Regions from separate parts of the Homo sapiens genome. Here all the other regions are reported to be linked to region 3. The links are microRNA targets in miRTarBase. Many come from high-throughput screens and were not tested one by one. Region 3 holds a microRNA gene; each other region holds the end of a gene's coding sequence. Distances are from middle to middle.
What was found. The annotated mature microRNA hsa-miR-507 reads UUUUGCACCUUUUGGAGUGAA and lies in region 3 at 2,915-2,935, shown strand. An mRNA with a match to its seed (bases 2 to 7 or 8) in the 3' UTR can be bound and repressed. Matches are read on the target gene's strand: a 7mer-m8 pairs with bases 2 to 8, a 7mer-A1 pairs with bases 2 to 7 and ends in A, and an 8mer does both.

Region 1: miRTarBase lists GPC4 as a target of hsa-miR-507. The part of its 3' UTR that is shown has no 7-base or 8-base seed match.
Region 2: miRTarBase lists CCDC39 as a target of hsa-miR-507. The part of its 3' UTR that is shown has no 7-base or 8-base seed match.
Region 4: the mRNA of BCL7A is a reported target of hsa-miR-507. Seed matches in the 3' UTR shown: 7mer-m8 at 580-586, 7mer-m8 at 1,242-1,248, 7mer-A1 at 2,160-2,166 and 7mer-A1 at 2,792-2,798.
Region 5: the mRNA of COLEC10 is a reported target of hsa-miR-507. The part of its 3' UTR that is shown has no 7-base or 8-base seed match.
Region 6: the mRNA of PAQR3 is a reported target of hsa-miR-507. The part of its 3' UTR that is shown has no 7-base or 8-base seed match.
Region 7: miRTarBase lists NWD1 as a target of hsa-miR-507. Seed matches in the 3' UTR shown: 7mer-A1 at 1,217-1,223 and 8mer at 554-561.

What each region holds. Positions count from the first base shown.
Region 1 is chrX:133,299,302-133,304,151 of GRCh38, reverse strand. It overlaps GPC4 (glypican 4), which reads left to right. Exons shown (of 9, transcript NM_001448.3): 8 at 811-986; 9 at 1,083-4,049. The coding sequence ends at 1,285. Among named protein-coding and RNA genes, the nearest start is that of TFDP3, 83 kb to the right of the region's middle.
Region 2 is chr3:180,612,243-180,615,734 of GRCh38, forward strand. It overlaps CCDC39 (coiled-coil domain 39 molecular ruler complex subunit), which reads right to left. Exons shown (of 20, transcript NM_181426.2): 20 at 1,766-2,835. The coding sequence ends at 2,679. It also overlaps a transcript of TTC14 not described here. Among named protein-coding and RNA genes, the nearest start is that of TTC14, 12 kb to the left of the region's middle.
Region 3 is chrX:147,229,087-147,233,936 of GRCh38, reverse strand. It overlaps MIR507 (microRNA 507), which reads left to right and starts at 2,860; the gene lies at 2,860-2,953. MIR506 (microRNA 506) reads left to right here and starts at 3,094; the gene lies at 3,094-3,217. The region is part of intron 2 of LOC105373347 (periphilin-1); the gene reads right to left.
Region 4 is chr12:122,058,710-122,063,511 of GRCh38, forward strand. It overlaps BCL7A (BAF chromatin remodeling complex subunit BCL7A), which reads left to right. Exons shown (of 6, transcript NM_001024808.3): 6 at 383-3,335. The coding sequence ends at 454. LINC02985 (long intergenic non-protein coding RNA 2985) reads left to right here and starts at 4,581. Exons shown (of 4, transcript NR_135044.1): 1 at 4,581-4,802. RefSeq lists a silencer at 4,194-4,488.
Region 5 is chr8:119,104,746-119,109,595 of GRCh38, forward strand. It overlaps COLEC10 (collectin subfamily member 10), which reads left to right. Exons shown (of 6, transcript NM_006438.5): 6 at 1,055-3,710. The coding sequence ends at 1,446. Among named protein-coding and RNA genes, the nearest start is that of COLEC10, 40 kb to the left of the region's middle.
Region 6 is chr4:78,916,888-78,921,737 of GRCh38, reverse strand. It overlaps PAQR3 (progestin and adipoQ receptor family member 3), which reads left to right. Exons shown (of 6, transcript NM_001040202.2): 6 at 1,057-4,850. The coding sequence ends at 1,199. Among named protein-coding and RNA genes, the nearest start is that of PAQR3, 20 kb to the left of the region's middle.
Region 7 is chr19:16,814,522-16,817,521 of GRCh38, reverse strand. It overlaps NWD1 (NACHT and WD repeat domain containing 1), which reads right to left. Exons shown (of 19, transcript NM_001007525.5): 19 at 1-2,494. The coding sequence ends at 2,483. The region is part of intron 2 of LOC124904648 (a long non-coding RNA gene); the gene reads left to right. Among named protein-coding and RNA genes, the nearest start is that of SIN3B, 13 kb to the left of the region's middle. RefSeq lists a silencer at 1-42.

The sequences.
Region 1 (4,850 bases), 14 Mb from region 3:
ATTTTTTTTTTTTTGTATTTTTAGTAGTGACAGGGTTTCACCATGTTAGCCAGGATGGTCTTGATCTCCTGACCTTGTGATCCGCCTGCCTCAGCCTCCCAAAGTGCTGGGATTACAGGTGTGAGCCACCGCACCCAGCCAGTACCCATACTTCTTTACTTCAACCCACCATCCTCCTCAAGAGGGATAGCTAGCTTCCTTCCTTCCTTCCTTCCTTCCTTCCTTCCTTCCTTCCTTCCTTCCTTCCTCCAACAGAGTATCACTGTCACCCTGCTAGAATTCAGTGGCACAATCTTGGCTCATTGCAACCTCACTGCAATCTCAGCTGCTGGAATGCAGTGGTGCAACCTTGGCTCACTGCAACCTTCGCCTCCTGGGTTCAAGTGATTCTCCTGTGTCAGCTTCCTGAGTATCTGGGATTACAGGCACACACCACCACACCCGGCTCATTTTCATATTTTTAGTAGAGACAGGGTTTCGCTATGTTGGCCAGGTTGGTCTCGAATGCCTGACCTCAAGTGATCCACCCACCTTAGCCTCCAAAAGTGCTGTGATAGCTTTGAAGAAGGTTTCCATCAAATTGGAGAAATGAGGAATCCACAGGAACAAGAAAGATTAGAGTTCATTAGGAATTAAAGAACTTCCATCTAATTTTGCTTAGTGGAAATACTAGAATCTAGCAGAAGTATTTGATAACCTCTTGTATAATCTTCATAATCTTCACGCCTGTAATCCCAGCACTTTGGGAGGCAGACAGATAAAATCTTTTCGCTTTACGAATCATCTTACTGGGGTCATTTTACATTCCAGGTACCTGTTTGCAGTGACAGGAAATGGATTAGCCAACCAGGGCAACAACCCAGAGGTCCAGGTTGACACCAGCAAACCAGACATACTGATCCTTCGTCAAATCATGGCTCTTCGAGTGATGACCAGCAAGATGAAGAATGCATACAATGGGAACGACGTGGACTTCTTTGATATCAGTAAGCATTTGTGGTTTGAAAGTACGAATTGCTCTTGTATGTCTTCTGATGAGAACAAGTGGAATGAAATTTCTATTCCATTTTTTTTTAAACTAGGTGATGAAAGTAGTGGAGAAGGAAGTGGAAGTGGCTGTGAGTATCAGCAGTGCCCTTCAGAGTTTGACTACAATGCCACTGACCATGCTGGGAAGAGTGCCAATGAGAAAGCCGACAGTGCTGGTGTCCGTCCTGGGGCACAGGCCTACCTCCTCACTGTCTTCTGCATCTTGTTCCTGGTTATGCAGAGAGAGTGGAGATAATTCTCAAACTCTGAGAAAAAGTGTTCATCAAAAAGTTAAAAGGCACCAGTTATCACTTTTCTACCATCCTAGTGACTTTGCTTTTTAAATGAATGGACAACAATGTACAGTTTTTACTATGTGGCCACTGGTTTAAGAAGTGCTGACTTTGTTTTCTCATTCAGTTTTGGGAGGAAAAGGGACTGTGCATTGAGTTGGTTCCTGCTCCCCCAAACCATGTTAAACGTGGCTAACAGTGTAGGTACAGAACTATAGTTAGTTGTGCATTTGTGATTTTATCACTCTATTATTTGTTTGTATGTTTTTTTCTCATTTCGTTTGTGGGTTTTTTTTTCCAACTGTGATCTCGCCTTGTTTCTTACAAGCAAACCAGGGTCCCTTCTTGGCACGTAACATGTACGTATTTCTGAAATATTAAATAGCTGTACAGAAGCAGGTTTTATTTATCATGTTATCTTATTAAAAGAAAAAGCCCAAAAAGCAGTAAAATTTCCATTTCTCCCTGTTATTTTAGTTGCCTTATCTGGAGAGACGTGGAGGTGATTTTCTTTTTTTTAAATTATTATTAAGACAGAATGTGAGGGCACAAGCAGGCTTCTGAGCCACTTGTCAGATTGTATTCAAAGCATCAATCCAAGAAGGAGGTTATGTGTACTTCATTTATTGGTGATAGTTGGAAGAGACTGCAGACTACTGCTTTGAATGAGTTGAATTACATAAGCTAAGATCACTATAGGTCCATTTCTTGAACCCACTTATACATAAAATGTAACCCATTTAGAAAAAGATTCTGGATATCATCCCCCTTGAAAGATAGAAAGCATTCAGGATGTCCCAGTTATCACATGTTCACACTTGGGTTTAGGGGTGTTTTTTTTTAAAACCAGGCAGGTTAGCTAGCCCACCCTGTGCTAGTTTTCATGTTCACACTGACCCTATTTGAATTAATATCCTTTGTTAGAGTGGTCGAGATTTCAAACCCAATTATGTACAGGGAGCTGTCTGAGAGCTAGCCAGAACTGGGGTACAGCCTGGGCTCAGGGAATAGCTGTCAACACTCGGGCAAAGTTTTTGTCTGTGCATGTGTATCTCCATTTGTTTTGGGATCCCAGTTTTTGTTTTAAGAGAGTATAAGGTGTCTCATTTGAGTCTTTTTCTTACCTAGCCCCCTCTTATCAGTAAAACAAAGGACTTGCCATGGTTCACAGCAATGTGCTACGATCCAAGATATCAGCCAAGGAGCCCACTTAGGGGAGAACTAGGTGTCCAGATTTTTGTATGTGTTGTTTTTCTTGGGGGATGGGGTGGGGTGGGAGTAGGTAGAGCTGAGAATACTACATCTTAGTGGTGACCTTTAGCCACGTGGGTGAAGTGGCAAAGGCCATGGCCATATCTGTTGTCCCAGGCCAAAGACTAACAACTGCCTTGGGAATCCCTTCCTTGTGTCCTTACCAAATGATAGCTCATAAAACTCTGATAATGTAACAAATCACTTTCAAAGGAGTTCCCAGAAGTCTTCAGAAAGACTAAAATTCTGTCTCTTCCTGCTTTAGACAGCCATTAAGATCCCAACTAATTTTACCGAACCTAAAACCCACAAAGAGGTTGTTTGTGTTATTGTTCAATCTTCAGTTGTAAGAGTAATTCTCTATTTTTATATTGAAACATAATTACTTGATAGCTCAGGGTCTACATTTCATTCAACTTTTTACACCAAATTCTGCAGAGTGGTCAAAATGGAATATTGGGGGCTGTTGTAAACAGAGGCTTAATTTTATTAGAAGTAGCCAGTTATTTATTAAAGCATGATGTTAATAAAATAGGCATATTCTGGCTGGTGTGTATAAGTGGTTTTTTTTTTAAAACAAATCAGAAGACATAAAATTGAAAAGGCACTCCATTTATATATAAGGGAAAATAGATTGTAAATAGCTAAGGGGCCTTGTGAGAACTTGGAAAATGTGCTGATACTTAGTAACTACCTCAGTTGTGAGGAATTTCCTTTTTAGCTTAGACTGCTATTACTTTTACTTGGTAGAAATGAATCTGGTCTCCAAAATATGGCTCAGAGAGTTATCCCCATAGACCTTGTTAGATTGTTTTTAATTTAAAACCTTGAACTCTGCCCAGCTGTTTTCTTCCAGTCAAATTCTCTAAACCAATAACATTTTCCAAATTAAGTATTCTTGAAGGTTCTTCTGAACTCTTACTGATTTGTTTTCTTTCTTTGCATTTTTTCCTGTTACTCTTTTATTATTTAAATTGTCTCTTGCTTTTGAACTTCAACTATGAAATAAACAAATCATAGATTTTTCCATTCAGGTCTGACTGGATAACTCTTGGCTTCTAAGCAGCTGGCAAGCTCACCCCCACTCCCCAAAAAAGAAGAAAGGCAAGTTGAATATTTTAAAACCTTAAGAGTTTGGAGTATGAAGTAGAATAAAAGCCTTGTTAGGAGAAGACCTGACTTTTCCAAAGTTAACAGCATGTGAAGGGCTTGTGTTTTACAAAGTCATTTATAAATTATTTTTCTTTAAAACACATCACCTACTCTGTACCTTAAAGATTTTACAACTCTTAGATTTATATTTTATTTCAAAAATCGTAACTAGCACCTGTTATTTTGATTAAAAGACACTGCGAAGAATTGACGTAAATTTCTAAAGTTTAGTTACTGAGTGTTCAAAACCTAACAGTTCACATGAAGTAAAAATTGTCATTTGTGATTACAGAATCAAAATAAAAATAGGTATGAATGGTGCTACACAAATTTCTGCTTCCCCTTTGTTAGCAGAATATGTCTATTTACATAGCTAAAGGGTAGTAGGTTATTAGGTTAGTGCAAAAGTAACTGCAGTTTTTGCCATTACTTTCAATGGCAAAATACTAACAGTTATCTACTAGAGGAGGGTGTGTGTGTGTGTGTGTGCGTGTGCACGCACACGCGCATGCACATGTAATGTCACTGCTAAGCCAAATGTAACTTTCTACCTTTTTTGAAACAACAACAAAGTACTCAAAATTCTTCTGACTTTGAACTTCATGGGAAAAAATATAACTGCATACCGTGATACACTTCACAAACTCAGTTTCTAATTTTTGACTCCTAAAATTCTTCTAAAATTCCTTTTTATATATGTGAAAAATACCTGAGAGATGACATTTGGTAACAGGAATTCTATTCTATCAATGAGCCAAATGCCAAGTAATATTTACTTGTGTACTTAGTTTTTAATTAGGTAATATATTGACAGGGTTTAAAAAACAGAACATACATCAAGAGACTGAGTGAATTTTCCTCCCATTCCTGCTTCCATCTGCCAAGTTGTCCCCACACCTCAAGTAAGCTCTTACTATTTACTTATGTATGTCTTCTTCCAAAGTTTATTTATGCATATACAAGCGAATATGAATAGAAGTTTACTCCTTTTTGTCATATAAAAGGTAGCGTTTTTGTTTGATTTTTGTTTGTTTGTGGGGTTTTTTTTGTTTTGTTTTGCTTTGTTTTTTGTTTTTTGAGACGGAGGCTCCCTGTGTCCCCTAGGCTAGAGTGCAGTGGCGCAAT
Region 2 (3,492 bases), not on the chromosome of region 3:
AACACAACATTTAAAAAATTTTTTTTTCCTTAATTAATTCATATAAATTTAAGGGGTACACATGCATTTTTGTTACATGGATCTATCGTGTAGTGGTGAAGTCTGGGCTTCTAGTGTAACCATCACCCAAATGATGTACATTGTACCCATTTCATAATTTATCATCCCTTACCCCCCTGCCAACCTACCAGCATTGGCGTAGGCAGAATTCATGATTCAGACCTCAAAAGTGGAAGCAAGAGGGGCTGAGTACAGTCACTCATGCCTGTAATCCCAGCACTTGAGGCTGAGGGAGGAGGATTGCTTGAGGCTAGAAATTTGAGACTGGCCTGGGCAACGCAGCATGACTCCATCCAAATAAGTTGGGTGTGGTGGTGCATGCCTATAGTCCCAGCTATGCGGGAGGATCGCTTGAGCCCAGGAGTTCGAGGCTGCAGTGAGCTCTGATTGTGCCACTGCACTCCAACTTGGGTGACAGCCAGACTGGTGTCTTAAACACAACAAAAACAAAATGGGACTTAAGTAAGCTACGAAGTTCTTGCACAGCAAAAGAAATAACACAGTGAACAGACAACCTGCAGAATGGGACAAAATGTGCAAACTATGCATCAGGCAGGGGACTCATCCAGAATTTACAAGGAATTCAGCAAACCAAATCACCCTATCCAAAAGTGAGCAGAAAACATGAATAGGTATTTTTCAAAAGAAGAGATAAAAATGGCCAAGAAGCGTATGAAATAATACTCAACATCACTAATTAGAGAAATGCAAATTAAAACCAAATGAGATATCTCTCATCAGTCAGAATGGCTATTACACCCCATTCAATGTAAGAGAATAGTACCTTATCCTGTAGGCTGCCTGAATTTATTAGGTAGGCGCAAAAGTAATTGCAGTTTATGCCATATTAAGCAGAGTATACAAACCAATTTCTAAGGAAGTTCATCACAGCAAAAATTATTGGGGATTTACATTGTCAAGAATAGCGACATCTTCAGTAATTTTTCTCAAGATCATATATTGCCATATCTTGGTCTCCATAAGCAGATGAAGCATGACTTTTGGATATGAGGATAAGTGTCCAGATTTGGAGATAGGTTGATCCCCTGTCGCACCATTTGTCATTACTACACTGAAGTTGTTAGAACTGTTATTTAAGGATTAAATGTAGATTCGTATGCTGGCCCAAGAACCAAACCATTCCACAAATTCTGTGCTAAGCTCCAGGTGGCAACTCAGTAAGTAGAAGTTATATAGTGCAATTTCTGTGTGTCAAGCCCTGTGCATCTTTTTTATATTATCAAATTCGGTAAACTTGTAGGTAACTTTCTGTGTCTATAGTACAAATGAGGAAAACAGGGAAGTAACTATCCAAGGTTACAGAGCTAGTAAGATACAACCTCTACCTTCATAGAAGAGTGTTTAATATTACTTCAAGTTTTAAGTAATTCCCAAACTAGCACAGGGCTGAGAATAAGAACTTTGATGAGCAAAGTGACTTTAATTAGTTTTTAGGTCTTATAAATCTCATGCATTAGAGCAGTACTTTAGCCAAAAATTTTATTACCTACCTTTTTTTTCGCCCACCTTATTCTTGACTTTGCTATGCCTTTTTCCTATTTCTAAAACAAAACAAAAAATAATCAGGAGAACTATTCACTACCACTACTGCTTTTCAGAAAGAAGTACAAACAACAGTTCTAAAATAATGACAGTTGTAATGAGCATTTTTTCCCAAGGTTTGAAGGAGACACATGTACATTCGTGAATTCTAATACATTTATTTAAAATCCAGTTTTATAATATTCCACACTCTATTCCAAGAGTACAAAGTGTTGGGCACATGTTATAATGAAGTGTTAACTGGAAAAACTACTACATTTGGCAGTCTACCTCCAACTGTAAATGAAATTTCTATTGCAAATCAAGTCATACCTAGCTTTCATTAAATCGTTTATTAAATCAAGAAAATTTCAAAATTGTTTATACTTGGTTGGCTGTATCTGAAAGCAAATCTTTAATGCGTTTATTTCAAGGTCAGAAGTGATTTATTTCAAGGTCAGAAGTGATTTTTCTAAATTTATGCTGCATTTTAAAATTGATATACAGTGTTTCTCTTACCGGTTTTTTTTTGGGGGGGTGGGGTGGGTAGGGGTTGATGCTATTTTTTGGTTAAAAATTATAGCAAAAGAAGAAACTGCCTTTAACAATTTTTCTCCCCAAAAGTCTGAGAAATAGTTACTTTGAATAAAGAAAACCTAATTTTGGTGTCTTGTAGGGTAAATGAGATTTTCACATTGCAATACGCTCATAATAGTACAGTAAATCTTTAGAAATTTCTTCTTGAAAGATTGTTACATTAGAAGTGAGTGTAGTTTCGTGAAATAATGAAGCAAACTATTTTCTAACACTACGAACATCAGAATTACAGTGAAATACAGCATTTTTCCTATGCTTGTATAACATGTAGCCTTGTCAAGAATCTGCTATTAATTTCTTCAGTATGAAGAAAACAGTAGAGAAAATGAGAACGTTCCTTTTTTTTTAAAACTATCAGTTTTTACACTTACCACTAAGTTTTTACACTTTCCACTAGATAAAATGTGTTGGGTCGTTTTGTATTTTAAAGTATATTTTTGTTTTTGTGTTTACAACTTTTTCAGAAGAGATTAAAATGTTTATTTGCTGCTCTTTTTGCTCTTAACATTACTAGAGCTACTACTAGCACTAGATGGCCTAGAAGGGCTGCCTACTAGTGAAGAGGAGGCCGGGAATTTAAGCTCCAGTACTTTAATTGAAGACTGAGAAGTAGATGTACTTGTACTCCTAGATGACCTAGAAGAAAAACCAGAATTATAAATTCAATGCAAAGTTTATATTTTAGTATAGACCCTCTCATTATTGGCAAAAGGTACCATAATTCCATAAGTAAAGACATCAAAAAAGTACATATTAATAGTGTTAAGTTTTTAAATGACCATCAATAGATATCAAACAATTTAAACAGGAAAGGAAAGATGAACATAGATGAGTTTCAAACCAGTAGAAAAGTAGTTTAATAAGTATGTTCCTACATGGTAAAAATGCTTTGAACTATAATCAGTTTTTTAGAGTTGGAATCATTAAGCATTGAAAGTTTCCAAAACAGAGGAAATAGGGCCAAGAGGATTTGGTGCTGGCAAAAATAATTAAAATGATACCTTTTGTAATTTAAGCTGAAGAGAAGAGAGAAGCATATTGATGGATAAAGTGGTGGGGTCATTTGAAAAACAGCTAGCTATATAATTCTGAAAAAAGTTTTAAATATATATTTTATGAAAGTACAGGGATGTTCAGTTATATAGAAACAGTTTTTTATACTTAAATGAAACACTTTTTTTAGGGGCCTCTTCATGAAATTTTTACCTGGACTAAGGAATAGTAATTTAATAAGTAGCTGCTGAATGCAGGAGATTGTGAATTCTAAAATCAGGATCATTATTAATAAATTTT
Region 3 (4,850 bases):
CTCTTTGTGATCCTCATTTTCGGTCTTCTGCACATAACCACAGAGCCATGCAGCCACTAATCTGCTTTTATTCACTATGGATTAGATTTTATTTTCCAGATTCTTATTTTTTATTTTTTGAGATGGAGTCTCTCTCTGTCACTCAGGCTGGAGTGTAGTGGCGTGATTTCGGCTCACTGTAAATTCTGCATCCCAGGTTCAAGCAATTCTCCTACCTCAGCCTCCCGAGTACCTGGGACTACAGGCGCACACCACCATGCTGAGCTAATTTTTGTATTCTTAGTAGAGACGAGATTTCACCATGTTGGCCAGGCTGGTCTCAAACTCCTGACCTCAACTGAACCTCCCACCTCAGCCTCCCAAAGCGCTGGAATTACAGGCATGAACCACGGTGCCTGGCCAAAATTTTTTATTAAAATGGAATCATACTGTATATACTGTTTATTTTGGCCTAGCTTATTTCTCCTGGCATAATTATTTTGAAATTCGTCCACATTGTTATTTGCATCAATAATTTATTTGTTTTTATGGATGAGTAGTATTCCACTGTATGGATATTCCAGTTTTTTTTAAATGCATTCACCTGTTAATGGCCATTTGTCTCCAGTTTATAGCTATTTTGGCTTTGACTACTAGAAAAGACGTAGCTATGAACCTTGATATAAAAATATCTGTATGGAGAGGCAGAAGGAGAGAAGGAGAAAGAGAGGGGAGGGGAAGAGGAGAAAGGGGAGAAGGGAGAGGGTGGAAGAGGGAGAGAGAAGGAGAAGGGGAGGGAGGGGGAGGAGAAAGTAGAGGGGGAGGGAGAACCAATTCCTGGAGCCCACAGGAAGCACGACCTGGGAAGCAAGGTGTAAATGTTACATGTCCATATCAGAGGATGGGATAGAATTTGATAGTCTGCTGCTACATTATCTCCCAGGAAAGCTCTTTCAAATCATGTCTTTCTTGGTGTCTAGTTGGCAACTGATGATGTGTGTGGATTTTGTTTTTGCAGTGGCCAAATACCTCACTTCACCCAAAGTCATGAGGAAATACAGGCTGTAGTGAAGAGGTGGGAAACTGTTCTACTTTGTTTTCTATCATTGTTTATTATGATACCTCATCTGTTTACTTCTCAGTGTCCACTGCTCTCCTTCCTACACTCGCAGCATTTCTCAGTGCAGTGTCGTCTATCCCTGATACGTGCTAGATTTCCTTTGAACTTCGTTCTCTGTTTTGTTTGGGATTATTGGAAAGTAAAGTTACATTTTAGTGTATTTGTTTTTATGTTTTGGGGGTTTTTGTATTGTGTATGTTCTTTTTGATTTTTGTTATTGTATTGCTTGTTTGCTTTTTTAGGGTTTTTGTTTCCTGTAGAATTTTGTATATTTGGATGTGTTTTGTATATTTTGTGTGTTTTTTTTTATTCCGATTTTGAATGGTGTTTTTAAATGTGTGTTAATTAGAATTTTCAGTAGTATTTTTACATTCTTAAAAATTGTTACTCCCGGCTGGGCACGGTGGCTCATGCCTGTAATCCCAGCACTTTGGGAGGCCGAGGCCAGTGGATCTCCTGAGGCCAGGAGTTCAAGACCAGCCTGGTCAACACGGTGAAACCCTGCTTCTACAGAAAATACAGAAAATTAGCTGGGTCTGGTGGCACATGCCTGTAATCCCAGCTACGTGGGAGGCTGAGGCAGGAGAATCGCTTGAACCCAGGAGGCGGAGGTTGCAGTGAGCTGAGATTGTGCCATTGCCCTCCAGCCTGGGCAACAAAAGCAAAACTCTGTCTCAAAAAAAAAATTGTTACTCCTTTATTGTTTTTTTAGTTGACACATAATAATTTGTAAATATTGATGAGATATAGTGAGATGTTTTGATACATACATGCATTGTGTAATAATCAAATCAGGGATTTAGTATTTTCATTACCTCAAACGTCCATCACTTCTTTGTGGGAAGAACATTCAAAACCCTCTCTTCTAGTGATTTTGGAATATACCATAAAATATTGTTAACTAACTATAATCAATCACTCTTCTGCACAATAACACATCAGAACTTTTAGCCCTCCTAACTGTGACTCTGTACCCATAAACCAATTTTTCCCCAACCCCCCTTTCCCTTCCCTTCCCCAGACTCTGGTAACCATCATTCTACTCTCTACTCCTATGAGATCAACTTTCTTAGACTCTGCGTATGAGTCAGATCATGCAGTGTTTGTCTTTGTGTTTGCATTGCCCTATTTTGTGAGCATTCGTTTTGGGGTTGTTTGTTTCATTGTTCACATGTTTATTTGCATGTGTGGCATGCATGTGTTCACATGTGTTGCAGATATTTCTTGGTCTAAACACTGGTTTGCAAGTGCATGACTGTGGTGACTACTGCTTCTGCTGCTGTAGGCCTTCATCTCTGAACAGAGGATGCCAAACCAAGGCCCCAATGATATAAAGAAGATTCAAATTGGAAAGAAGAGAACTCTCCAGCACTGCTTCAACTGAGCTCTATCTGGCCTGCAATCGCTAGATATGATGAGTCACTTGAGTGGTCCTTTCTATGTAATGACTGGCTTTTGAGGCATATGAAGTAGTTGTTCATGTGCCAACTATATTAAATTGAAAATTAGCAGAACAATTTAGTGAAGTATGCTAAGTCTGGGAGGAAGAGGGAAAATTTTCTCTCTCCTAAAATCTGTCTCATTAAATGTGCAGCAGGTGAAGTAATTAATAAGCATTCAGTGAAAGACATAGGAGACAAAAGGGAGAGGAAAAAGGGTTTGTTTTTTTTTTAATCTATTGACTATATTCTGCTTATTCCTAGTGGACTGAGAGTGTTGGGATTCTGACTGAAATGGCGGAGTGAGGGACATTTTCCGCTGTGCTGTGTGTAGTGCTTCACTTCAAGAAGTGCCATGCATGTGTCTAGAAATATGTTTTGCACCTTTTGGAGTGAAATAATGCACAACAGATACAAGTCAGAACTACCCACTCAGTGATGGGTCAACTCATACAACCCTTTAAAGAGAATTCTGTGGGGTAAAACCTAGAGGATGAGGTTCTCTGGGAATAGCCTCATCTGTAGTTTCCCCGTGTTACTATTAAGATGGTCAGTGCCACCACCATCAGCCATACTATGTGTAGTGCCTTATTCAGGAAGGTGTTACTTAATAGATTAATATTTGTAAGGCACCCTTCTGAGTAGAGTAATGTGCAACATGGACAACATTTGTGGTGGCATTGGTAATGACGAGTGGAATTTCAGTGACAATACTGCCCTCCCTTGAGCCTTGGTACCCAACCTTTAGTGATGAGCCATTTCCAGGTACTCTCTGAAGTACCTCTTGAGAGATCTGCTCCAGAATCTGAGGGTGCCTGGGAAAAGTCTCTCATGTAGGTTTTTCAATTATTTATTGCTTTTTCTCCACAAAATGACTGACTACACTGGAAACAAGATTTGAGGTAGGAACATGATACTTCTTTTTCTCTTGTACCTCTTAGTCTTTTCTCTCTATAACAACCCAAATACACTTCTTGCCTTATAAACCCCTGAGAAGTTTACACTGATCTTCTTTCCTCACAATATTTAAGCCTTCTTTTTAGGGAGCACAAATATCCTCCTGCCCTTCCCTGCTGAACTCCAAACTCCATGAACCATCTTTCTTATGAAGTGATCTCCTCAAGGCTTAGATACACTCAAATTCCCTTTAATATTCCTGTGTATCCGTGATGATAATCTCATATCAGTGGAGTTTGATATGATACCCCAAATTTGCTTTCATTTGAACTATTTATATGTTTTTAGCTGGTCTTAACTATTATGGGAACGGATGAAGTGATGAGAACATATATGTATGAACATGTGTGTACATATACTTCTGGAAACTTTACATATACAAAGGGGTTTATATATCCCTTTATATATATATATATATATATATATATATATATATATACACACACACACACACACACACACACATACATATGACATTCACAGAAAAAGGAAAAGGATGCAGAAAAAGGATCATGTTCCTACCTCAAATCTTGTTCCCAGTGTTTTGTAGTCCTTTTGTGGAGAAAAAGGAATAAATGCTTAAAAAACCTACAGGACATACTTTTCACAGGTACCCCAGGCACCCTCAGATTCTGGATCAGGTCTTATAAGACCTTCAAAGAAACACCCAGGACAATGATTGAGCAAATATATATGTATATAATTATTATAGAAGTCTATTTTTAAAATAAATCCCTTAAGATATTTATTATAAGGATACTGCAAGGAATAACCTCAGGCAACTATGGAGGCTGGTGAGTTCCTAGATCTGCAGGGGGATGGGTCAGCAAGCTGGGGACCCAGGAGAACTGATGGTATAGTTGCAGTCCAAGTCCAGAGGCCAAAGAAGCAGTAGAACAAACCATTTTGTAGTTCCAGTCCAAAGGCCAGCAGGTTTGAGACCCAGGAAGAGCTAATGTTTTAATTTGAGTACAATGCCAGAAAAAAATGAGATGCCCCAGTTTGGAGGCAGTCAGGCAGGAGGAATTCTCTCTAACTTAGGGGAGAGTCAGCCTTTTTGTTCCATTTAAACCTTCATCTGATTGGTGCAGGCCCATCCATCCACATTAGGGAGGGTGGTCTGCTTTACTCATTCTACTGATTTAAATGCTAATGTCATCCAAAAAGACCTTCACAGAAACACCCAGAATAATGACTGACCAAATGTCTGGGCACTCCATGACCCAGTCAGGTTGAAATATAGAATTAATCATCACAAGTTCACTCCTTGTCATGTTGTCACTTATACGCATCTCCTTAAATTATATTTAATCATCAAATGAGAAAAATACCAAGGTCATAATTTCATTTAATAA
Region 4 (4,802 bases), not on the chromosome of region 3:
AATCACCCTAGCAATGAATCATAGATGGGAAGATTGATAACAGCAACTTCTGGTCCAGTCTGAATGAGTGGGGAGAGCCTAGGGTCCAAGGCAGCAGTGTAGGAAATGCTCCCGAGTTACCAGCCATTGGCATGTGATAGGGTCAGGCAGGGGCCAGGGGACACCGCGCTCCATAGCTCCAGGAAGAGTTTGGGTGTGAGGGTCTCCATAGGTCCTCAAACTCTCTGGAGTCCACGCTTGGGCCTCGGGTCTGGAACTGCTGGTCTGAACCACAAAGCCGCCCCCGCTCGGTTCCTTCCTTGGCTGACCTTCGGCCTCACGCCTGGCCTAACTTGCTCTCCTGGCCCATTAACCTGTGTTCCCCTTTTCTCCTCTCCCCAAGGATTTGGAAGGAGTGCCACCCTCTAAAAAGATGAAACTGGAGGCCTCTCAACAAAACTCCGAAGAGATGTAGACGATGCTTTAAAGCCTCCGATCCATGTTCCATGGAAGGTACATCAGCAATTAATTCTAGAGCAACTTTGCCCCAGCGATTCCTCTTGGGTGCGAACAGAACTACTAACGTTTCAAGTTTACCAAGTGCAAATCCAAGAAGACCCAGAACGGCGTCACTTCTCAGACACTGAAGAACTCTGCTGTGAAGCAAAACACTCAAACCTTTAAGGGACTGTCCTTGGGGAGGCAGGCGGGGCTGACAGCTCAGGAGTGTCTGCACACTGTCTCGGAAGCCAGGATTCCATTTGTGTTGCTGCTGTATTTTCCCCCCACTTCTCTATGTAACGATATAAGCTATCGGAGGGTGGTACCGATCAGGAACGCTTTTTGGCGGGGCTTTCCACTGTTCAACCGATTCCTTCCGCTTTCTTTTTTTGTGCCTTGTGCCCTTGAGGTGACCTCTGGCATGTATCCTGGTGGTTCTTACATCCCCCTCTGCAAAGTGCCCTCTTGGTTTGGTTCGGGCGGCGGCTGCCACCCTACTCACCGCTCTCCTCCCTGCCCCAGGACTTCATCGGAGCAGGCAGGGTGGAGCGAAGGAGCTCCTTAGCCCACCTGGTTTGCAGGTGCAGGGGGACCTTAGGCACGCCCCAAGCACCAGGCACCAGGGCCCAAGGACGCGCAGGTGTTGGGGCACAGTCCCCAAGGGCTCGGCCCCTTGGATCAGGCTGGGCACTCGCTGTGCTCTCCCCTCCTTGGGGCGTTTAGGACTGGGCGTCTCCAAGCCCACCATGGCCCAGATGGACGTGCAAAGCCCTTGGAATTTTCTGGCACTTCCTCTCTATTGCCCCCACCACCACCACCCCCATCACTGCTTTCTCCCAGACCTCCGAATACGAAATGGCTTCTCTGGCTGACTGCAAGGCTGTCTCCTTAAGGCACTGAGTGGGCCGGGGAGGCTGGGAGCCGGCGGCAGGATTAGCTGGTGCTGAACTTTCTCTCATAGGACGTCGCTTGGATTTCAAATCCACGGTCACCTGCTGCCCTTTGCCTCCCCCGACGCCCCAGCCTGTGCCCCGGAGAGGCAGGATCGCAGTGGTCAGAATCCACGTGCTTTCCTATTCTCAGGCTGTTCTGACTCTGAGCCAACAGCTGGACCGTGTCTCATCCCCAGAACATGCCGTCTGTCCCCACCGGGGAGTGGGCCTTGATGGCCGGGCCTCGAAGGCCACAAACAAGGCGTCGAGGAATTGGAAAGATTTGCACACCCTCCAGAAAGGAGAGACGCAATCTCCCCTCCCTCCCATCCCCCACCTTCGCTGGAACAGCTTCCTCTCACTGAACGGAGACGCCCCCTTGGACGAACTGCCTAATCGTTTGGTTCTGAGGCCTGGTTTGCTCTTAATTAATATATGAACTCCTCAGACCTTAAACCTTTTCCTAAGCTTTCTTTACTGCACTGGAGTTCTGACTCCCTTTGAGTTGTGTGTTACTGGGGGTGGGGTGGGGTCATGGGTTTTGTTGTTTTTGGGGGCTAATTGGTGCATATTCAGGTACCACCTTTGACGTGTGGCTCTTTCTCCTGACCATCATGGGAAGTGTCTGCTGGATTCCATTTTCTAAGAGTTTCTGAGGGTGAGGCTCTTATTTTTTTTTTTAAGGGATCCTGTCTATTTCCTGCACTTCGAGAAGAATCAAAATGTTCCTGAATTTCAAATACCTCATGCAAAATGTCTCCTGAAATAAGGGAAAAAAAAAAAACCACAACTTTGAAAATCTTAATGTTGAAGTTAGCAATGCCGAAAGGTTTCTGTCTTAAAAAAAAAAATCCTTGTACTTATCAATTTTGCCCCTTAGGCAGTCAGTTTTGTTGAGAACTGTGTCCTGCATCCTGGCGCAGAACCTACCTGATGCGGTTCCTCTCCACGCATCTCGAGGCGGCGTTACCTCCAGATTCCGTAGAGTTAGAGTCACATTTTTCTTTGCAGCGAAACTCCATCTTGGTGAGAGATGAATTTGGATATTTATTTCCTTCTCTGTTTTTGGGAAACGAGAGGCTACAACCAAGACAGCTGAAGGAGAATGAAACACACACATCCACAGAAACAGAGAGGCGTAGGTGGCCCTGCCGTTGACCGCAGCCTCTCTGGACAGGCAAGGGGAGTTGGCGCAGGTGAGGACTCAGACGACGTCCACCGTCCCAAGGCTGTCACTAGTATTTCTCTGAAGTGCCTGAAGGTAGGAATGGGCCGGCGATTGGGACCAGCTGGGCCCCACCACGGCCACGCCAGGCAAAGCGCCAGCAGCCCTGCACTCCACGCTGGCCAAGAAGGCCTTCCACGCAGAATGACAAGACTGCAAAAATCCGATGTGCTTCCTTCCCTGGCGCAGTCGCTCCTCGAGCCGCTGCCCCCCACCCACCCTGCACCCCTCGCCCTCCCCCCACCACAGAATCTAAGACCTTTCAGCTTCGAGCCAGGGGGCGGGGGATCCCGAGCAAAAGCCTTCCGTGGACATCAGGCCCCGTGGCCTCAAGGGCTCCCAGGGCAAACCTAATTCCCCCCAAAACGTGAAGTCGGGGAAGCTGCGGCTACACATTCCACAAAGTGCTGGCACTTACACCCACAACCCGGAAGGCTGTGGACCGATTCCTCTAGGGTGGTGACCTCCCATTAGCAAACGGTGTCATGGTTTGGAATGTTCATTATCGCCAAGAACCTGGTTAGAGGCATAAAGACCTTTTTTCACCGTTACCTAATTTTTTCCCCTTTCAAGAATTTTTTTTTTTTTTGGTGTGTTGTACAGCAGTATAATTTTTCACTTATTTATTCCATCAGTAGATATGGTTTGTACAATGTACAATTGTTTCATTTCAGAAAATAAAAATTTCAAATCATGAATACCTTGTGGTTTTGTCTCATTTTAAGTAAGGTCAGATCGATGGTGACGGTGTCCCTCTCCAGCTGCTCCGGCCTCTCTTGCTTGGCCGTGTGGCCCTGATTCTACAAGACACACAAGTTCCTTGCACACAGGAGCTGTTGCCTTCCATAGTCATAAGAGCTGCCATTATTAAGCACCAGCTGGATGCCAGGCAAGCCACTAGTTGCTCCTTTCTGTGGGCAGGTATTGTTGGCCACCTTGTGCAGGTGAGAAAACAGCAGGACAGTCCCCTGCAGGGCTCTCATGCCGGGTCAGGCCCCCAGGTTGAAAGCCACACCTGAGGCCAGGCGTGGTGGCTCATGCTTGTAATCCCAGCACTTTGGGAGGCCGAGAAGGGCGATCACCTGAGGTCAGGAGTTCGAGACCAGCCTGGGCAACATGGCGAAACCCCGTGTCTACTAAAAATAGAAAAATTAGCCAGGTGTGGTGGCACACACCTTTAATCCCAACTAGTTGGGAGGCCAAGGCAGGAGAATGGCTTGAACCTGGGAGGCAGAGGTTGCAGTGAGCTGAGATCACGCCACTGCACTCCAGCCTGGGTGCAACAGAGTGAGATTCTGTCTCAAAAAAAAAAAAGCCACACCTGATCCGCCTACCCCGAGACCTGGGTTCCAGCAGGGACATGTTTTCAGCTTCCCTGTCTCTGAGGGGACTCTGGATTGTGGTAGGGACTCAGGGGCGTTAGTGCATGGGTGGACTGCAACCTCGGCTTGACTTGTCCTAACAGCCTCTAGTGACTTACATGGTTGGGCTGGAACCAGACCTTTCCCAGGGCTGTGACCCTTTCAGCCCAGACTCCTTCCCCCACGCTGACTTCCCCACCTCTGTCCAGCGTCACCTGGCCCTTGGGTCAGCCCCTAAAGAGAGCTGGCAGGGGTGGGGGTGTTGTGTCAGCGGGTCTAGGCCAAGCTGCACTGCGTGGACCGGCTGCAGGCAGATGCTCTCTCCTGTTTGTTCTGTCTGACTCTCCTTCCTACCCGTTCCTTTTTAACATGTTCCAGTGTTTTTACCAGAATTGGCTGCTCAGCTAAATAAACTCCTGATATGGAAAGTTCAGCCTGACAAAACACAAATCATAGAGGCCTTGTTTGCTTAAGGAAAAAAAATGCCTGAGCTGGCACACGTTCCCGCGCTTCCTTTCTGCCCTCCCTGCGTGTCTGTTCCCAGCTCTCACTCTCTGGATCGGTCCCTCCCTCCTCTCTCTAAGGCTTCTGCCCTTTCCCCCTGCCTCCCTTGTCTCCACCCGCCTAGATCACTGTCTCACAGTCATTCTGTGGAACTTCCTCTGTGTCTCTCACTGGAGCCGCCTAACTTCCTCTCCCACCTCCCTTCATCAAGGAGCAGTCTCATGCCCAGGAGCTAGAAATGTAGGCTTTGCCGGCATTGGTTGAGCTGTGCTGGGCCCTAGGCAGCGATGACTCAAACTT
Region 5 (4,850 bases), not on the chromosome of region 3:
CCACACTAATTATAACTTTGGTTGTAATCTGTACTGAAGATTCTGTCTCTGATATGACTTAGACTGTCATGAATAAGCCAGATCATACAGGGAGAACATAGAGCAATAGTTCTGAACATTTTAGTGGTCATAGATTTATTTGTGAATTAAAGTTATGGATCCTAAAATGCCTATGTAGAGGCCGCTGACACCCAAAACATACATGCCATATTATGAGAGAAGGGTGATTCTCAGTCTCCAGTTCTGTCCTGAAGCTAACTCAGTAGCTCAGTCTTCCTCTTGTACCTGGGATGAAATATGGACAATCCCAATTCATGTACATGTTCACAGCCCAGGAATTTGGTCCAATGTGGACAAACATCTGTATTATTCCTGCATCATTTCAATAAGCATTTACCATTCCCATAAGTATTCCAGGCACTGAAGCCAAAGAGTGTCAAAGACATGGTCATTGTCCTTAAGACATTCACAGGTAAGTAGGAGAGAAATGCAGGCAAACGATGAGACTAAAATGTGTTGAGTGCTAGAAGGAGGAAGTGAAAGGGGCAATGGAAACTCGGGAGAGTGACTGCCATGTCTATCCAAGGGCATTGGAAAGACTTCTTATAGGGGAAAATATTTCCACTGAGATCTAAAGGGATGAGTAGAAGTTTACCAGGTAGAAAAGACTTTCTAGGCATAAAAGGCTTGGAAGTATAAGAGAAAAGGGCCTGCTCATGTAGCCACCAGTATAGCTAAAGCATAAACTATGTTGGGAAATATAGTATGAGATGGGCTGGCTGAAAGTTCATGTAACATGTCTTTGTCAACTTTGTGCTGGCCAGGTGTGTGAGAAGTTGAGGAGAAAAGGAAGGGAGAACAAACGGTAGATATGTGTTCTCTATTTGCTAACTAGAGGTGGGGGTAATTAAATCTGTGACTACCTCATAATAGGGCTTTGAAAAATAATTCTTGAATATTGAATAAATAAATGTAAATCTGGCAATATCATATAATTTTGTTGCCTTTTATCTTTTTGAGATACGTAATGATACTCCTTTTTCTCTCCCTGCAGTGATAGCAGGGATTAGGGAAACTGAAGAGAAATTCTACTACATCGTGCAGGAAGAGAAGAACTACAGGGAATCCCTAACCCACTGCAGGATTCGGGGTGGAATGCTAGCCATGCCCAAGGATGAAGCTGCCAACACACTCATCGCTGACTATGTTGCCAAGAGTGGCTTCTTTCGGGTGTTCATTGGCGTGAATGACCTTGAAAGGGAGGGACAGTACATGTTCACAGACAACACTCCACTGCAGAACTATAGCAACTGGAATGAGGGGGAACCCAGCGACCCCTATGGTCATGAGGACTGTGTGGAGATGCTGAGCTCTGGCAGATGGAATGACACAGAGTGCCATCTTACCATGTACTTTGTCTGTGAGTTCATCAAGAAGAAAAAGTAACTTCCCTCATCCTACGTATTTGCTATTTTCCTGTGACCGTCATTACAGTTATTGTTATCCATCCTTTTTTTCCTGATTGTACTACATTTGATCTGAGTCAACATAGCTAGAAAATGCTAAACTGAGGTATGGAGCCTCCATCATCATGCTCTTTTGTGATGATTTTCATATTTTCACACATGGTATATTATTGACCCAATAACTCGCCAGGTTACATGGGTCTTGAGAGAGAATTTTAATTACTAATTGTGCACGAGATAGTTGGTTGTCTATATGTCAAATGAGTTGTTCTCTTGGTATTTGCTCTACCATCTCTCCCTAGAGCACTCTGTGTCTATCCCAGTGGATAATTTCCCAGTTTACTGGTGATGATTAGGAAGGTTGTTGATGGTTAGGCTAACCTGCCCTGGCCCAAAGCCAGACATGTACAAGGGCTTTCTGTGAGCAATGATAAGATCTTTGAATCCAAGATGCCCAGATCTTTTACCAGTCACACCCTATGGCCATGGCTATACTTGGAAGTTCTCCTTGTTGGCACAGACATAGAAATGCTTTAACCCCAAACCTTTATATGGGGGACTTCTAGCTTTGTGTCTTGTTTCAGACCATGTGGAATGATAAATACTCTTTTTGTGCTTCTGATCTATCGATTTCACTAACATATACCAAGTAGGTGCTTTGAACCCCTTTCTGTAGGCTCACACCTTAATCTCAGGCCCCTATATAGTCACACTTTGATTTAAGAAAAATGGAGCTCTTGAAATCAAAAGAAAAAAATGGGGAATTGTTCACAAACAATACTGGTTATAGTTCTCTTGCTAAATTGCCCACTGCTATTAACTTAACTTCATTTTTATTTATCTTAGGTTTACCTGCATCAATTTTATTCACCTTAGGCATAGGGAATGAGGGAAGGAGTTTGTGAAGCCTTAAGAAAATTCTGGAAGCTTCAAAGTGCTACCAACATCATCTCCAGGCCCCCTCATCCTTGCCTCTAACATATCACTAATGGTGACATTTCATGGGAGGCCTTTTACTCTTCATAAATATATGTCATAGAAATCCTACTGGAGATGTCCCTTCTAATACTCTGGCATCACAGAAATGTGTGAGGCACAGAATTCGGAACATGCTTAGAACTCACATTTACTGAGCTGGTAAAATTCTACCTTGAACTGTAGATCAAACCTCAAAGCAGCTTTCACTTGGAATTTAAAAATAAACAGTTCAAAGATACTCTAGATTATCACCCTATAAACTTCTACTCCAGTTATGGTTTCTGACATATGATTAGACTGTTTCAAATGCTGGCAAAATGGTTAATGAAGTAAGAGAAACAGATCAACAACATATGTTCACCTTAAACCATCTGTTCATGATTTCACCCGTGACTAACTGGTTATGAGATAGGACTTAATTAGGTTATTTCTGTGGGTTCAACAAGGGCCATAAACTCAGATCCTACAGGGGCCAGGCAGATGACTTACCTAAATGAAGTGGAACACGTGGGGACCCTAGTGCACTGAGCACAGCTTGCCCTTCCAAAGGAGCCAGCTGCTCCTCAGTGGCTGCTGCTGGTGCTAGGGAGGACCCAATCTTGCTAAATGTGCTGATATTTCAAGAGAAGTCAGAAAGCTGGGACTTTGTAACATAAGCTCATATTTTAATATGTTGGCAACTAATTAATTTTTAACCCAAATTTTAAGTGGGTTAAAAATTAATTAAAATTAAAGATTTGAGGTCAAAAGTCTTCTAGCTAAAGTTGTGATCATTTCATTTCTTACTTCTGGAGGAAGGTTCAGAAGGTTCTAACCAAATAGAATGTCATTAGGATATGATGACATGAAAGTCAAGATATCCCATTAATACCATATTCAATTCAGCTTAATAATAGGAATTTGTTATATGTTTGACATTTATCAGGTTACTAGTTAAACTCTTTTGAGATGATAGTACATGACACTTTAAAGGCAGAAAAGCTTAATAAAAATTACAAAGTAGGACATCAAACGCCAGTATCCTTGGATAGAAAGCCATCCCAGATCATGAGGAATGAAAACCTAGAAACACCTGTAGGAAAATAAAGCTCATATGTAAGAAGAGAGGAAGGAGAGACATGCAGCAAATGTTGCCTACGGGCAACTTCATGTTAAGGATCCATGTTCTGATTTGTTCTAAGCCCCCAAAGTATGAGTATTTATTGTGTGCACTGTTAGTGCTATTATTATTTACTGTGAATGTTATAATAATAGTTCTCTCAATGACTCATGTTGTCTGTGATGCTTCCAAGAGAGATAACAGAACTTCAACAAATAAGTTATATCCTGCAACCTTGCCTGAAAGAAATTTTGAAGACACCACACACTTAATTAAAATTACTACAAAAACTCAAATTTGTGAAGCACGTTGTGCTTTAAAAAATGCCTTCACATATCAATTTTCATTTGATTCTGATAAACTCTGTGAAGGACGAAAAACAGTCATTTTTACTGCCACTTCCCAGTGATACTACTGAGGCCCAAGGAAGCTAAGCAATTTACCAAAATCAGCTCACATATAAATGAATGCCATTAGCCTGCTGATTGAAACTGCCAATGCAGTGTCTTCTCCAATTTCTGTGCATTGCTCATGTATTGAATGGAAGTTCATCCACAATGGTCTTGTGATAGCAGGGGCTCAAACAACTTATCTGTACTACATTCCAAAGTTAAAGATGAGGATTAATTAACAGAGATGCTGGATACAGCAACTTGCCTTACAAATTTAGTGTTCACTGTTTTGTTTTTCAATTCACAAACGTCCACATAGGCATTAGTGTTGAGGAGGTGACTTACGGCAGCCACAGTACAATTCTGCAGATAACTAGAGTTATAGGGCAATCAAAGCAGATACATAAAAATCAATTTTGTTAGTCTTTTCAAAATACCAGCTCCTCAATTCCTGGACTTTTTGATGGGTTTTTCATGTCTCTATCTCCTTCAGTTCTGCGCTGATCATAGTTATTTCTTGTCTTCTTCTAGCTTTTGAATTTGCTTGCTCTCACTTCTCTAGTTCTTTTAATTTTGATGTTAGGGTGTTGATATTAGATATTTCCTGCTTTCTCCTGTTGGCATTTAGTGCTATAAATTTCCCTCTAAACACTGCTTTAGCTGTGTCTCAGAGATTCTGGTATGTTGTGTATTTGTTCTCATTGGTTTCAAAGAACTTATTTATTTCTGCCCTAATTTTGTTATTCAACCAATAGTCAGTCATTCAGGAGCAGGTTGTTCAGTTTCCATGTAGTTGTGTGGTTTTGAGTGAGTTTTTTAACCCTGAGTTCTAACTTGATTGCGCTGTGGTCTGAGAGACTGTTTGTTATGATTTCCATTAGTTTGCATTTGCTGAGGAGTGTTTTACTTCCAATT
Region 6 (4,850 bases), not on the chromosome of region 3:
AAATAAAATAAATTTTAAACTAAAAGCTTTCATTCAGCTCAGGTTGAATGTTTAAAAATGTATACACAACACAGTGGCATTTGATGGGTCCAAGGGTCCCCAAGGTGTCCATGGATAGAATTGAGTGGATCTCTGATAGTTGTATTAGATAATCAATATTTGTTGTAATCCTCTGTGTTTTGTTTTTTAAAAAAATGGGTCTGTAGGCTTCACTAGACTGCCAGAGGCGTCCATGGTACAAAAAAGGCTAAGAATCTTATTGATATACACTTTAAAATCTATGTACTGTACTGATTGGTAAGAAAAAAGAGAGGTTAGAGAATATTTACATTATATGACCATAGAAGCACCATGAGTATGTTATTTACATTGAAATTATTATAGCTCTGTATTTTATTTACTGAGAGAGATCAAGAAGTTTTCCGTATGTTAATTGTTTAATCTTCTCAGAATTTAACATTTGACCACAAAGAGATTAAATTGTTCTCTTAAGTTGTATATGAACTAAACAACCTTAGTTAATTAATCCATTACTAATTACATCCTGCAGATTATTCCATTAGTTAGAGAGCACAGAATTCAGGTCAGCACTTTTTCTTTGCACACCTGCTTGAAATAAAAAGTGCTTCTAATAGGTTTATATCTAAACCCAGCAGTATATCTCCTTCTCGCGGATTTATACCTAAATCACACCATGATTTTTAACATCTGGTTTCTTTTGCCTCTCTCAATAATTTTTTGTTGTTGTTCATTCCATCAAATGTGAGTTGAGATGTGGGAGGCATAAGGTCAAATTCCTGAAATTAAGTTAGATTTTGAAAACACACTTGGAATAGCATTTCTAAAGTTTACCTGTGTACTTAATAAATAAAACCTTAAAATTAGACCCAAATATGAATTGATCCATTTCTAAAAACGTTTGGAGCTTCCAGTTAGTCTCTAGGCACTCTGAGACTATGAAAATTTTTCTGCTAAGCTATACTTCCAAGAAATATATTTTTCCTTTAATGTCAACATATTGAAATCATTATCATTTTCTTTCTACCTTCTTTCCAGGACAACTAAACTACCTCGGATCAAGCCACCAAATATGGCATATCCTTGCAGTAGTGATGTTATATTGGTGGCATCAGTCAACAGTGTATGTCATGCAGTACAGACATAGCAAGCCTTGTCCTGACTATGTTTCACATTTGTGAATTAGGTATGGCCACCTGGTGAATTCAGTTGTTAAGCAATATATAATGGGGAATTGTATACCCCACTATTTCTAAGATTCCCATTAGTTTTCCCTTTTTCCTTTTTAATATGAGTAATGCTTTATAAAAATGGGAAAAAAAGTATACTTAAGGATCTGTAGTAATAACTGCTTTACAAAATCCTTAAAACTACTAATTTGCTGCTTGTACAGAAAGTGAAAATTAGTTGGCAATCATAAGAAACATCTGAATAACAACGATGAATGGGAAACTAGTGTTGAAATAGGATTCATTTTACTTAGCACCAGCTTAATTTCCTTAGGAAGGGCTCATGTCCATTAGAAAATGGAGTCATCTTATGTGCTTAATTATTTTCAGTTAATTGTCAAGTTTAAGTGCCTAATCAAGGCAAGTGTTGTTTCAGCCTATGCTTAATGCAAGCTAGGATAGTGATTTTAAATAATCACTAAAATCACTAGATTTAAATAATCACTAAAATGATTTGTGAGAAACTGGCACTTCAGATATTATATCCTTTAGCTATAGGTTCTTCTCTCCCTAAGAACATTAGATATTTTAGTTTTCCAGAACAAAAGCTTTAAACTTCTGCAGTAAGTTGAGAGAAGGGTTGAGAAGAGGAAAAGAACTTCTCATTTTCTATCAGATAAGAATCACATTAGAAACTAAGTACAAGATTAGACAACAAATTATGTGGTCAAATAATATAGTCATTAGCCACCTAAACATTTTAATTCCAGATATTATTTAATTCCATATAATAACTGAATTCTTGTGAGTGGATTACAGGTTTTTGATCCCAAAATTCCAGAGCTTTCAACTCTCTGAATTTGTAGTCCTGAATATCCCAGTGGTGGGGGTTCCCAGCATTGTGGGTGCTACTTGCAAGGCCATAGAATCTAGATGGCCCTGTCTTGACCCTGAAATGAACCTTAAGCCTTAGAACAAAGTCATGCAGATGCCCCATTTGATAATAATCTTATTCACCTGTGCTCTGGTCCTCGGTTTCTGCATGTGTTAGCATTGCATTGATAACTCAGAATCTTGATAAACACTTAATATTTGGGCCTGAAGCATTAAACTTTCTTTTTATTGTATATACTTAAAAAATAGAACTCACTGCCCTATCATACATTGTAGCCCTCTTATTCTTTGGTCTTTCATATGCATTAGTTAAATCCCTTAAAGTAGACATTCATAAAAACTTACATTGTTTATTGGAGTATAAAATATTACCCAAGTTTCTTCATGAGTTGACATGAGCTGTTTTAAATACTGGTGTATTTTCAGAACAGTAAAATTACTGAATATCAGAAAAAATGTTAATTGATGATGAAGCTTATTCCCAAAATGCCTTTTGTGCATATGATACTTGGAAAGTCACTAATGTGCCTCAGTTAATACATCAGTAAAATGTTGTGTTTCTTTTCCAGTGTAGTGTTTTTGGAATATAAATTCCCCATGCTAGTATAGTATCTCAGCAAAGAGAATTTCCCCCCAGGAGGCTCAGTAAAGGAATACCGTGTCTTACCCATCGTTATGATGGAAGGCTGCTTTGAAAATGGCTGTTTTACCTTATAAGGTTAAAATTTTGATCCATATGTTAAGTGATAGAAGATTTTGGTGCAACAGTAGTAGGATATATTTCTCCTAGAACATCCCTTATTGGCTTACATGATTTTATTGCCTTTTAATAGATATTTTGTCATTTTGGCCAAACAAAAGACACTGAGTAGTTACACTTAAGTTAAAAATGAGGGGAAAATCATTATTTTAGGTGTGGAGCCATTTTTATTATAAAACTTTCTCAAAATAAAAAAACATTGAATCATTTCAATTTTTGCAGTCCCTGTATTAGTATATGAATACATACTTGCCATTTGAATTAATAACATGAAAAGAGTATACTGTGTTTTTAAATCCGTGTTTCTTTGAATTTAAAGGGTGTACAGGTCTTTCTGTAGGGAAAATTATTCCATGTAAACATTTCAACTCTGTATGAAAATGTTAAATATTGTAAGAAAGTTATCCTCTCATTTTTTCACTGCTATGATATATTTATTATAAAATAGGGAATGAATGAATGAATATGGATTGCTGTTAACTAGAAACACTTCTGTATGTCAGTCAGCATTTAATGACCACCTACTGTGTGCACAGCACTACTGGTAAAATTTTGAAGACATTGTTAACATTAAAAAATATTTTAAAGTTGTCTACAAATCTGAGCCTTGTAATGATGTATATTTAAGTTATTTTTGTTTTTATAGATTAAAGTAAGATTAAAATATACTATCCAGTTTTATTACTAAAAAAGACTGGTTTTAATTTTACCAATGTGTGAACTATAAAAGCTTTTTGCCTACAGATTTTACATTTTAAAATTATCTATGGCTGTTTTAAATTGTCTAGCAATTTATATGGTTGTGGTTAACTCATTTAAGAAACAATTATCTTTCTATATTAAGCCATTTTCAAATAGCAAGACAGTGCTTGTCTTTTTTTGTTATTACACTAACTGCAATTCAGTAAGCTGCATGACAAAATATGTATTATGTAAATAAACTGGGTTTACTAAATATTTTTAACTGCTGCTTGTCATTCTTTGTAATACATAACAGCTTTAAAATCATATTTTAGAATCAGGAACGAAGATTCAGGGAATGTCTGTCACATCTTATGGCATCCCACCTGGACAGAATATCCGATTTGAAGATTGTGATTGACTTCCGTAAAACTGTACAACTCTCCATTTGGCAGGTACCTACTAGATAATACTTTGCCCTGTATTAAATGTCAAGGGGCAAAGCCTATTCCTGTGAATTCCTGCTGGTTGCTTTGCTGCATTAGGTCCCTGTCCACTGTAAATCATCATTCCTGGGAATTCTACTTCTGCCCAAGTGTGTAAAGAATCAGCTCACCTATTAGAGAAGGGGTAGAAATACCTTCTGTGTGCATTATCACAATAACTGTGTTTACACTAAAGAGGTGTAAATACAGTCCTCTGAAATTTTGTACCAGAATTCCCAAGTAGTGTAATGAGATAATGATCCAGAACTGAAACTACCCTTAAGAAAACATTTTTGGAAGGGAGAGGTAAATAGCAGTAGGGGGTTTCTTGTGAAAAATTAACCTCCATCCTTAAGAGGGCTGAAATGAACAGCCACCAAGGTTCTAGTCCTGCTCTATAAAATCTGAGATCAAAATACTACCTAACCTGCACATAATCTCAATTGTGACAACCATCTGAACTATCTCATTTAATATGTAACAACAAATACAAGCTCAAGCTTTCAATATGAGAATATTAACTACATGTTACATATGATGCTTGACCTGGGCTTCCTTAAAAAGGTATTCGTTATCCAAAATAAATAGCTCAAATTGCAGCATATATTCATCTCAAGTAACTATAACTGAATTTGAACAGTAATACACTGCAAACTATTCTTTGTTAATAGAACTTTTCTAATCATTTGTGTTATTTTGCTTTGTACCATTCATTTTCATTAAAAAGATACAAAGCCCCTTTTTTTCACATAACTTTAGATAAATGTTACAACTTCAGAAAAAGTTAATTCATAAAAATAGGATGAACCTTTCCACAGGCTACCAAAGACTCCAGTTTTTGGA
Region 7 (3,000 bases), not on the chromosome of region 3:
CAAGCCATTCTCCTGCCTCAGCCTCCCAAGTAGCTGGAATTACAGGTGTACGTCACCACACCAGGCTAATTTTTGTATTTTTGAGTAGAGACAGAGTTTCACCATGTTGACCAGGCTGCTCTTGAACACCTGGCCTCAAGTGATCCACCCGCCTCAGCCTCCCAAAGTGCTGGGATTACAGGCGTGAGCCACCGAGGCTTTTGCCATTATTATTATTATTATGAGATGGAGTCTTGCTCTGTCACCCAGGCTGGAGTGCAGTGGCACAATCTCAGCTCACTGCAACCTCCGCCTCCCGGGTTCAAGTGATTCTCCTGACTCAGCCTCCTGAGTAACTGAGATTACAGGCACTCACCACCATGCCTGGCTGATTTTTGTATTTTTAGTAGAGAAGGGTTTCACCATGTTGTCCAGGCTGGTCTCAAACTCCTGACCTCAGGTGATCCACCTGCCTCGGCCTTCCAAAGAGCTGGGACCACAGGTGTGAGCCACTGTGCCCAGCCAGTTTTTGCCATTATTTTTAATATTTTTAATGGCGAAAACCACAGTTACTTTTTGCACCAACCTTAGTAATCTTCAACACCTTAGAAGCTGCTGCCCAATACATCCAAGCATACATCTTAAAATTACAGTTTAAAATATTTTTAAATGAAATTTGACACTAACATTTGCAGAACTACCAAAACCTGCCTTGGAAAACTGGTTTGGAAAATGGATGAATAAGACAGCAGTAGGGTCTTGTTCAGCTCAAAAGCCTCTGTTTCTAAGGTTGCTTTTATTGAGACTCTATCAGGAATTCCACGGAGGGGAGAAGGGATAGCCACCTTGAAGATTTAGACTATCCTAGCATTAAAGTAAAAGCCTGAGAAGACTGAGAAGGGCTTTTAGAAGGCTGTGGGCAAAGAAGAAAGATCCACTTAAGTGGAATGAAAACAGTTTGACTGTTGAACTTGCACAAGGCAGACAGTTCAAAAGCAAAGCAGGGAGAGATCAGCAGCTCTTTCTACTTCCAAGAGCCTCCAGTTTTTAAGATTAAAAACCCACATCTTTATCCCAAAAGTTTGGGAGCCAAGGAATAGAGAGGGATGAACTATAACATGTTGATTGTTTTACTGCCAGCGTGAGTCCTGAAGTCAGCTCATTAACCAAAGACGCACATGCCAAATGCACTATAGATATAAATTCAACCAATCGCCAACTTTAAAAGTCAGAACATTTTTGCATAAAAGTCTGGATTTCTGGCTTTGCTTATTACAACTGGAAGCACTGACAGCAGTGGGCTTGTTTGGCCATGGTGATTCTGGGCTACAGTCAGGCTGCTCATACCCACCCTAGACACAATCTCTGCCTTCCACATGTCCAGTCTCTGTCTCTCCCTGCTGCTCACCCAGGTGCATGGAAGTGTCTAGATTAGTCACTAGCTCCTGTGAGCATTTGAGTGTGGTGCCTGTGGAAGAGATGGTTGTGCTCTGCAGACTGAAATTGGAGTGAGGTCTAACAGGAATGGGACAGAAGGCTCACTCTCAGAGCTCTTGCACCTTGGACTTGTGACCTGAATCAAATTATAACTACTTCCGCAAGGCTCAGTTTCCTCATCTGTAAAATAGATACAGAAACTCCTGCCCTCCCTAAAGTATGAGTTGTGATGAGGATCAGATGACAGCACCTACAGCTTTATAAACTGTGAGGTTCTGTGGTCCACATCAGTGATTTGCTGTATCTCACATTCATCCGTTCCCCCTTCATCTGGTACCAGAACTCCAGTTTGCATCTCAGGAGTAATCTCTTCTATTCTCAGTCCCAGTGGTGGACATTGGATCAGTCTAGCCGATTAGAGCTCTGCATTCTCCCAGATATAATAATTGGTTTAGGGCTAGGCGTATGGGCCAATTGGGACCAGTAGAGTTGAGGCTAGGACTGTTGGGAAAGAGAAGCTCTCTTTTCTATTGAAATTGGAGACAGCAGCATATTGGCCACCATGTTGCTAACCTGGGGGTGGCAAGTCTGAGAATGAAAATGAAAAAGAGGAAAGAATAATGGAAAGATGAGAAGAGACAAGGTCTGAAGCCATAATCTGAAGCCATGGGTCCAGATATACACCAGCAAACGTATTCTTTTTGCTTTAACTAGATTAAATGGGGCTAACTCACTGGAGCCCCATACCCCCACAGGGTTTTTTTATTTTTATTTTTTTACACTATCAGGCACACTTGTGAGCATTTGTTTGATTTGGTTTCATTTCCCTGGGCACTTTCTGACTCCAAGTCCTGGGGAGCTCCTGCAGCTGCAACTAGCTCCTCTCTCTGCCTGGATTTGACCATCCACATTGCCTTCTTGAAGTTCTTAAGAGGGTCCTGCGGTGAGGCTTTTGCTGAAAGGCACTGGAAATTCTCTCGGATCAGATAACCATGCCTGGTGGGGGCAATGAAGCCACTGGTGGTTGGGATGATTCTGTTTACCACAGCATGGACAAACTGGACTGTCAGCAGGGTGCCTGTAAGGGTGAAGAGAAGGACACAAATGAGAAAAATGGGGTGTAGAGGTCCAATCCTACACATTCCAGAGTTGGCTGCATGGAATAAAATTCCTGCTATGCCCTCTACTAATTTTGGCATGACATTTATTATGCCAAAGAGTCCCTCTTCCTTTATCTGCACAATGGGAATGATAACAGAACCTACACCTGCTCAGGGCGATTTTTAAGATTGAAAGGCATCATGCAGGTCATGTGCTTAGTGTAGGTTTTTGGCCCAGAGTGAGCTCAGTAAATATTATTGTTGAAGGAGGAGAAGGAAGAGAGGTTGTGAACTGGCCCAGGATGGGCTTTTAAGGCCACAGTCCTCAACCTTCATCTTCTGAGCCATCTGTAACTTTATACCAGTTGTATATATCTTTGCTACAGCATATTATACTACAATGTATAATAGTGTTATAGTTTACTATGTATCAGATTACAGTGTATTCAACTACAATGTAGTAGGCTCCACCTGATATTTATTC